Regions from separate parts of the Homo sapiens genome. Here region 2 is linked to region 1. The links come from fine-mapping of genetic effects on gene expression. A gene starts in region 1. The other region holds a variant in brackets. All regions are shown on one strand. Distances are between the middles of the regions. Region 1 holds the start of ATP1A4 (ATPase Na+/K+ transporting subunit alpha 4). Region 2 overlaps NCSTN (nicastrin).

The links. PIP is the estimated chance that this variant, and not a neighbour inherited with it, causes the effect.
Region 2: its variant is the best candidate, but not a certain one, in a credible set for the expression of ATP1A4 in lung (TOPMed, PIP 0.50).

Annotation. Positions count from the first base shown.
Region 1 is chr1:160,149,501-160,153,889 of GRCh38, forward strand. ATP1A4 (ATPase Na+/K+ transporting subunit alpha 4) reads left to right here and starts at 2,103. Exons shown (of 22, transcript NM_144699.4): 1 at 2,103-2,687; 2 at 3,665-3,724. The coding sequence starts at 2,541.
Region 2 is chr1:160,353,559-160,357,947 of GRCh38, forward strand. NCSTN (nicastrin) reads left to right here. Exons shown (of 17, transcript NM_015331.3): 11 at 560-732; 12 at 2,097-2,199; 13 at 2,305-2,400; 14 at 2,702-2,789; 15 at 3,042-3,196; 16 at 3,483-3,695. Among named protein-coding and RNA genes, the nearest start is that of NHLH1, 11 kb to the right of the region's middle. The variant C/T (reference allele first, on the strand shown) is at 1,661.

The DNA.
Region 1 (4,389 bases):
TGGAAAATATCTCATAAATCCATCAGTAATGGGAATGATTGAATAGAGCATGGTCAATACAGAATATGGAAGCCTCACAGCACTGAAAAAAAGAAGCTTTATGTACATGACAGGTTGGTAGAGAGTTGAATGATTGTTTAAAAGTTGAAAAATACCTCCTTTTAGATATCTATTTGTATAAACATAGAAAAAAGACTGGAAGGACATGCAGCACATTGTTACCAGCAGTAACTTCAGCAGTGGGGAGAATCTGAGTTTGGAGGGAGGGAAGGTGGGGCTTTCAATTTTTATCTTAAACATTTTTAATAGAGAAGAAAAATCCAATCTGTTAAAGAAATAGACGATCATTTATCCCAGCTGGGAAGGGAGCATTTCTATTTCTGAATATTCAAGGAGGATTGCATCAGCACCAAGATGAATGTTTCCAGATACAGTCATATTTTTAAAAAGCATGCCCAACCAAAATGCAATTAAATAAATATCAGGCCAGGCTTGGTGTCTCACTTATGTAATCCCAACATTTTAGGAGGCCAAGGCCAAGGATTGCTTGAGCCCAGGAGTTTGAGACCAGCCTGGGCAACACAGGGGCACCCCGTCTTTACTAAAATAAAATAAAAAAAATTAGCCGGGCATGGTGGCACATGCCTGTGGTCCCAGCTACTTGGGAGGCTGAGGTGGGAGGATCACTTGGACCTGGGAGGTTGAGGCTGGAGTAAGCCATAATCGCACCATTACACTCCAGCCTGGGCAACAAAGTGAGATCCTGTCTCAAAAAGTAAATAAACAAATATCAAACAACAGAATGGGAAAATCTATGTGACGTGCATAATTGAAAAATATATATAATGGTTGACAGAAAAGTATAGATGCTTCAGATTATTCTTGGAAGGAGGTAGAATCCTATGGACATGCAAAACATATATACAGTTAATATAGTCAAAGCACTTACTGAGACACCAGAGAAGGTCAATGGAAGAGGTAAGTACATCATTTTAAAATGAGAAAATGCAACGCTATCACATGGAAAAGCATATTTTTACCCTCACTGAGAAGAGCTGCATATTAATCCACAAATAAAACTACTACTGAATTCAAGCTACCTATTGAGCACATACTATATATGTCACATAGTGCTTTTTGTAGAGCACCTCACTTAAGGTAGAAGGTATCCTCTTTTAAAAATAAGAAAAGAGAGGTACAGAGGTTAGGTAACTTGCTCAAAGCCACACAGCTGACAAGTGGAGGAGTTGGGATTGAAATCCAGGACTGGTTCCAGAGCCCAAGATCTGATCTATTCTGCTAGCTGATCTCCTAAAATTAAAAGATCAAACCCAATGTTAGTGGAAAAGTGTGCCTTGCTAAAAAACACACACAGAGTACCTGCTTTTTTTTTTTTTTTGAGATGGAGTCTCAAAAACAGACGGGAGAATATTAGTCCAAACTGCAACTGCACCATTTTGTAAGCTCCCTGCTATGGTTTTTTGTTTGTTTGTTTGTTTGTTTGTTTGTTTGTTTGTTTGTCTGAGATGGAGTCACTCTGTCACCGAGGCTGGAGTGCAGTGATGCAATCTCAATTCACTGCAACCTCTGCCTTCTGGATTCAGATGTTTCTCCTGCCTCAGCCTCCCGAGCAGCTGGGATTACAGGTGCCCACCACCACACCTGGCTAAATTTTGTATTTTTAGTAGAGATGGGGTTTCACCATACTGGCCACGAAGGTCTCGATCTCAGCCTCCCAAAGTGCTGGGATTACAGGCATGAGCCACCGCGCCCGGCCGAATACCCGCTTTATTTTTGAGTCATCTATTTGGCATACCTCTAAGCCTCCAAAGTCTGCAGGACCACACAAGAACTTTGTTCTAGTTCTGCCCTCAGACTGAAACTCTTTCTGTAGCAGGGCCTGCTCCAATCGTCCTCAAACCCAAAGACTGAGACTTCTAGGTTCTTGGTTAAAACCTTCATGAGGCCTTTGCGACAGCAGACCTGGACCATCGCCAAGGCAAGACTTCTGGATTCTTGGTTAGAACTTTCAGGAGGCCTTTGTGATGCCAGACCTGGGTCATTGCCCCAGCAACCACAGGGCCTGGGACTGGGGGGTTCCCAGATCCTTGAAGCTCACTCCGCCTCCTCACTCTCACTGCATTTCCCACCTTCCTGTGGGCCTTGCGGCATCTTCATCACTGAGGCACCTGGTTACGCTTCACCTCTTGTTTCCTGCCCTCACTGCATTCCCTCACCTCTACCTTTTTATCCTTCCACCCTAGGCTTCTCTCCTCCCTCTTCCCTCACTCCTGACTCTTCCTCTTCCCAGCGGACGGCTGGAGGACCGCTCAGTCTCTCCTCTCTCACTTCCCTTCCTCTCTCTCACCTTCACCACCCAACACCTCCCTCCCTGCCTCTTTCTTTCTGCTCCCTCATTCTCTCCCCACCACTCTCTTCTCGTGGCCCCCTTGCCCGCGCGCCCTCTTCCCTTCCCCTTGCCTCACTCTCTCAGCTTTCTTCCCACAGTTGAGCTCGGGCAGCTCTTTCTGGGGATAGCTATGGGGCTTTGGGGGAAGAAAGGGACAGTGGCTCCCCATGACCAGAGTCCAAGACGAAGACCTAAAAAAGGGCTTATCAAGAAAAAAATGGTGAAGAGGGAAAAACAGAAGCGCAATATGGAGGAACTGAAGAAGGAAGTGGTCATGGTGAGGCCACCCAAAGTGGGCGCTGACAGCTGCCCTCTGAAAACACTCCTCCACCTATCTTTAACATCTTACCTTGAGAATGAAACACACAGGCCAGAGCCACATCTCTTCTCTGTTAGGCTTTGGAGGGAAGGAGAGGGTTAAAAAAAAAAAAAAAGATACACACAGAGAGACAGGGCAGCTCAACAGCAAGCACAGGTATATTGCAGACACCTGTGGAAGTGGGGGATCAGCTTAATTCCACAGTCCACTGCCACTTACAGGCTGGGTACTTATAGGGATGGATGGGAGGAGTCTGGGCTGTATGGCCTGCTGCCTGGCAGGATATCGATAAGATGTTCTCATGATGAGGTGATTTTTGGCCCTTGTTTCCACAGAATATAATCATGGTATTCCCTGGACCTTTGCCCAGCAGGATGTGATAGGGATGTTTCTTTAGTGGGGTCTTTGTCTTTAATTGGGCCTTCGTCTGCCCTGTGGTCAGGTGGTTAGGCAGGCTGTTTCTCTGGCCCGAACCCCCGTGAAATGTTTCACTTTGACCAAGGCCTGTAAAATAGTGGGGAGCTAGGCCGGGCGTGGTGGCTCACACCTGTAATCCCAGCACTTTGGGAGGCTGAGGCAGGCAGATCACCTGAGGTCAGGAGTTTGAGACAAGCCTGGCCAACATGGTGAAACCCCGCCTCTAAAAATACAAAAATTAGCTGGTCCTGGTGATGGGCCCCTGTAATCCCAGCTGCTTGGGAGGCTGAGGCAGGAGAAACACCTGTTGGGAGGCAGAGGTTGCAGTGAGTCGAAATCGCACCACTGTACACCAGCCTGGGCAACAGAGTGACTCCATCTCAAAAAAAGAATTGCAGGGAGCTTACAAAATGGAGCAGTCTCAGTTTGGACTAACATTCTCCAGTCTGTTTCTCCCCCTCTCCCTGGAAATGACCTGGGCCACCCCCTGTCCCTCAATGCCTCTACTGTCCCCTCAGGATGATCACAAATTAACCTTGGAAGAGCTGAGCACCAAGTACTCCGTGGACCTGACAAAGGTGAGTAAGAAGCTCCCTGAGGAGGCAGAGAGTCTCCAACTCTGACTGTGAGGCTGCCAGGACAAAAGCTGAACTAGGAATCCAGCCCCCTAACTTCAAGTCCAACGTTCCCACCCCTCACCCTCTGCCTGGCCACGTTCCATGGACACTACCTGGAAAAAGCTGCAAATGGTAACTACCCTCAAAGAGAGTGTGGGACTAGATAAGAGAATAAGAATGCTTTAGGGCAGTGCTGGTCAAACGTCTTGTCCTTAGGTCTCCTTTACACTCTTAGAATTTATCTAGGACCGCAAAGAACTTGTGCTTATGTGGCTTAAGTCTGTCTATATTTACCATATTAGAAATTAAAATTGAGAGTTTTAAAATGTATTTCTCAATTCATTTAAAAATAACAAAAATAAAGTTATCATATATTCATATATGTTTTGACAAATAACTGTATTTTTCAAAACAAAAAAATTAGCAGCATCTTACATTTTTGCAAACCTCTTCAATGTCTTGCTTTTTAATAGAAGATAGCTGGATTCTCAAATATTTTCTGGATAAAATCTGTTGTGATGTTATGCCAGTTGGCCTTCAGAAAATTCCACTATATACTCTTAAGAAAATGAGAGTAAAAAAAGGCAAACAATGATTTAGTATTACTATGAAAATTGACCTTGTGG
Region 2 (4,389 bases), 200 kb after region 1:
CTCTACCCAAGTCCTGGCTGTGTCACACTCGCTGCCCAACTTGTCCTCCACTTTCCTCATTGCTTGTTCAAAACCTTCCCTTCCCTCTAGGTCCACCTTTAGGCCTGCTTTTTTCCAGGTGGTCCTCTTTCTGCAATTCCAGCCTTCAGCATCATCCCTGCTCTGGACTCCTGTAGCATTTAAAGAATTGGTTATCTGTTTGGCATTCAGCACGCAGTTTTCTATTATTATTTGCTCCCTTCAATTCTGCACAATAAATAATAAGTGAAGCATCCACTGAGGATAAAGCAGAGTCTTGAAGACAGTAGAATTTACTTATAAATATGAAAAAAAAGGTCTCTTCTTTATGCCCCAATTTTCTAACTCTAAAAAGAATGGTGGAAGCTACAGGAAATTCAGAGAGCCTTGGTCCCAAAAGGCTTGAGGGATAAAGGTCTACTAGAGATAGGGTAGCTCCCCAAGCAGGGAACTTGAAGTATAGAGCATTTCAGGCCTAAAAGAGACCTCCTGCTTCCCATCCCCCAGCCTCCCATCAGTTAATCTCCCTCGTACCCCCCAGGTGGAGGATCTCCTGGCCACATTGGAGAAGAGTGGTGCTGGTGTCCCTGCTGTCATCCTCAGGAGGCCAAATCAGTCCCAGCCTCTCCCACCATCTTCCCTGCAGCGATTTCTTCGAGCTCGAAACATCTCTGGCGTTGTTCTGGCTGACCACTCTGGTGCCTTCCATAACAAGTAAGAATCACTTGGCCCTGCACCCTCTTCATTCTTGAAGAGAGTCTATTCTGCAGTCTGGGAGGAAGGTCACTGCCCTCCGCTTTCCCACACTACCCCCTCCAGAACTTCAGGTCCATCTGTATTCTTTGCTCAGTGGCGTTTTCACATCTGAACTGAAACCCTTATTTGTTTGACTGGATATTCATCTTAGAAACTCATCCTCACCCTTAGCCCTTTACTGTCAACAATCCTTGGTTATGGTTCCACTGCTCCCTAGCTCTCCAGGGTCCTGAGTTCCTCAGGGTTGCCAGCAGAGGGCATCATCTCAAACACAAGCATGGGAAGGATGGTGGGGGCCCTTTGGCTAGAAGACAGAAAGCAGTCCTTCTCTGGAACTCACCCAGAGGTGCCAGAAACAGTATTCATACTCTGTGAAATGTACCATGTTCTTGCCATGTGGTAGATGGCCATGGTTCAGTGCGAGGGTAAAAGTGCCTCCTATAGCTGATGGGGCTCCAGAGATACAAAGGGTAACTCTGGGTTACCCTTTAACTGCTCCTAACTTGAGGCCTTGGATAACAGGGGACTTCTTACTCAGGCTGGATTGCCAAGCTTCCCGAGGGCCAAATGAGTTTCGTAGTGAAAATGCTTGAGCTCTATTTCTGACCCCAGCCAAGTAGCACCTTCTCATTCATTTAGGGGAGTGACCGTCCTAGCACTTAGGGTCAGCTGTCTTCTCTAAAGCTATCCTTGTACCACTTTGGGGCAAGTGAAGATTCATCATTTGAACACATTTTGGATTTGATTATGTAGCTGACTTGACTTTGTGTGGGACAGGGATTTACTGATGGTAAAGACTGTGGAGCTCAGCCTCTCTTTTAAGATCTATCTCCTTGGGGCTCCATAAGGATCATCATGGTGATTTTATCAGTGTATTCTTATATAT[C/T]AGTGAGCAGACCTGATCCTAAGACCTGCTAATCACCTCCTGCTCCCAGCTACCCTAAATATAAATGTTCATTGGAACAGTTATACAACTGATCTCATGATACATGGCAGAGTTCTCTGAAAATCATCTTAGCCATCCCCCATATCTCCAGCCCAAATGATGTAGAAGAGTCTCTCCTTTGTTTAAAGATCTGAGCTCATTCAGCTTTTCTACCTTGTCTGTCAGGAAAGTCTTTAATTTTCACTAACCACCTCACCCTCACTCCTACCTCCCTGTTCTCCACACCTTCTGCAATATGGGATCCTGATTGTCTCTCACCCCTTTCTTCTGATGCTGAAAATGAGATACTGAGTCCCTGCATAAGGAGCATTTGAGGGAGGAAAGGGGCAGAGCCCTGGCTAAATGTAGCCAAGGCTCATGCCGGCTTTCCTGGCAGATATTACCAGAGTATTTACGACACTGCTGAGAACATTAATGTGAGCTATCCCGAATGGCTGAGCCCTGAAGAGGACCTGAACTTTGTAACAGACACTGCCAAGGTAGCACTGAGCCAGGCTGGGTGGGAGCCTGGGGCACACAGTGAAGATGCTAGCATTTGAGGATAGGAGAGGTGGGCCATTCAGCCCCCTCCTCACCTACCACAGGCCCTGGCAGATGTGGCCACGGTGCTGGGACGTGCTCTGTATGAGCTTGCAGGAGGAACCAACTTCAGCGACACAGTTCAGGCTGATCCCCAAACGGTAAGCAGATGGGCCCTAGCTCCTTCTTTCTATTTACACAGCAAGCTGTCCCTATCCTCCCTTGCCCTAGTGTCCCAAACCTTGGAATTCCACATGACTGTTGATGCCGGTGAGAATGCCTCATGCCCCAGAGAGCTCTTGGGTGGGCCTCATCTGCATCTTATGAGCCAGCTACTGTCTCCCAACTCCAGTCTATCTGGCCAGTCTGGTTCCTGCCCCATGACTGGGTCTCCACTGATAATTCTTTCCCTGGGCTCCCTTCAAGTCACAGGGTTTTCTCTCTTTACTGTTCCAATCCTAGGTTACCCGCCTGCTCTATGGGTTCCTGATTAAAGCCAACAACTCATGGTTCCAGTCTATCCTCAGGCAGGACCTAAGGTCCTACTTGGGTAAGCATCTGGTGTGGGAATGGGACCCTTAGCTGAGGAAAGGGATAGAGAAAAAGTCTTTTGGTTTAACCTTTATTATTTTTTTTCTTTTTCCTCTCTGTTTTTCTTACCCCCTGTTTTCCTTTCTTTCTTCTCATATTTGATGGATCCTTTTCCATTGCCCTTCTTTCTGGCTGCTGCCAATCTTGGGCTTTTCCTATTTCACCCACCATCCACCCACCAAATCTTCCCTTCCCTTTGGTCTGCACTCAGGTGACGGGCCTCTTCAACATTACATCGCTGTCTCCAGCCCCACCAACACCACTTATGTTGTACAGTATGCCTTGGCAAATTTGACTGGCACAGTGGTCAACCTCACCCGAGAGCAGTGCCAGGATCCAAGTAAAGTCCCAAGTGAAAACAAGGATGTGAGTGGTGGTGGGTGTTGGAAGTGCCCTGGGGCCCCTTTCCCTTGGGAAAGTTGGAGGTTCTTCTAGACCTAGTTAGACCCAGGGGATTGGGATGGAGAGGTGGAGAGATGCAGTCCTCAGCAATTGGGTGTTGAAAAGCCTGGGTGAAAATGGACCATCTGAAGGGTAAAGGGACAGCAGCCAGTTAGCTCAATTGGTTAGAGCATGGCACTGATAGAGGGTAGAGGGAACGAGTGAGAAGAGGATCACCCTAGCCGTGTGTTGTGGCGCATCTTCTGTGCAGCTGTATGAGTACTCATGGGTCCAGGGCCCTTTGCATTCTAATGAGACGGACCGACTCCCCCGGTGTGTGCGTTCTACTGCACGATTAGCCAGGGCCTTGTCTCCTGCCTTTGAACTGAGTCAGTGGAGCTCTACTGAATACTCTACATGGACTGAGAGCCGCTGGAAAGATATCCGTGCCCGGATATTTCTCATCGCCAGCAAAGAGCTTGAGGTGAGATGGGGCAGGGGCATAGGTGGCAGGGATCTGTTTGACTTCTTTCTCTGCTTTCTTGTGTCATATAGCCCTTTCCATCTCCCATTTGCCCCACATTTGTAGCAAAAGCCTACTGCAAATCTGTCCCTGGTCAGCCAGCATGTTCCCTTAGGAGGCCTTTTTTTTGAGATGGAGTTTCATTCTTGTTGCTCAAGCTGGAGTGCAATGGCACAATCTCAGCTTACTGCAACCTCCGTCCCTTGGGTTTAAGCAGTTCTCCTGCCTCAGCCTTTCGAGTAGCTGGGATTACAGGCATGTGTCACCACACCCAGCTAATTTTTTTTTATTTTTAGTAGAGATGGGTTTCACCATGTTGGTCAGGCTAGTCTTAAACTCCTGACCTCAGGTGATCCACCTTTCTTGGCCTCCCAAAGTGCTGGGATTATAGGCGTGAGCCACTGCACCCGGCCAGGAGGCCTTTCTTCACAGATAGTTTGAGTAGGTGTTCATTCTGGAGAGCCCCTGTGGATCCCAGAACTCTTTCACAGCTTCAACTCCCGGCTGGCATTCCCCATCTGGCACAGCTGGGATGAGTCAGTCTAATGTACCGAGCTCCTGTCACAAGTCAGTAATGTAAGTGCCGCAAGGGAACCAAAGCCATGGGCCCTCCTTTCAAAATGCCTAAAATCTAAGTAATACAAGATGGAAGCAA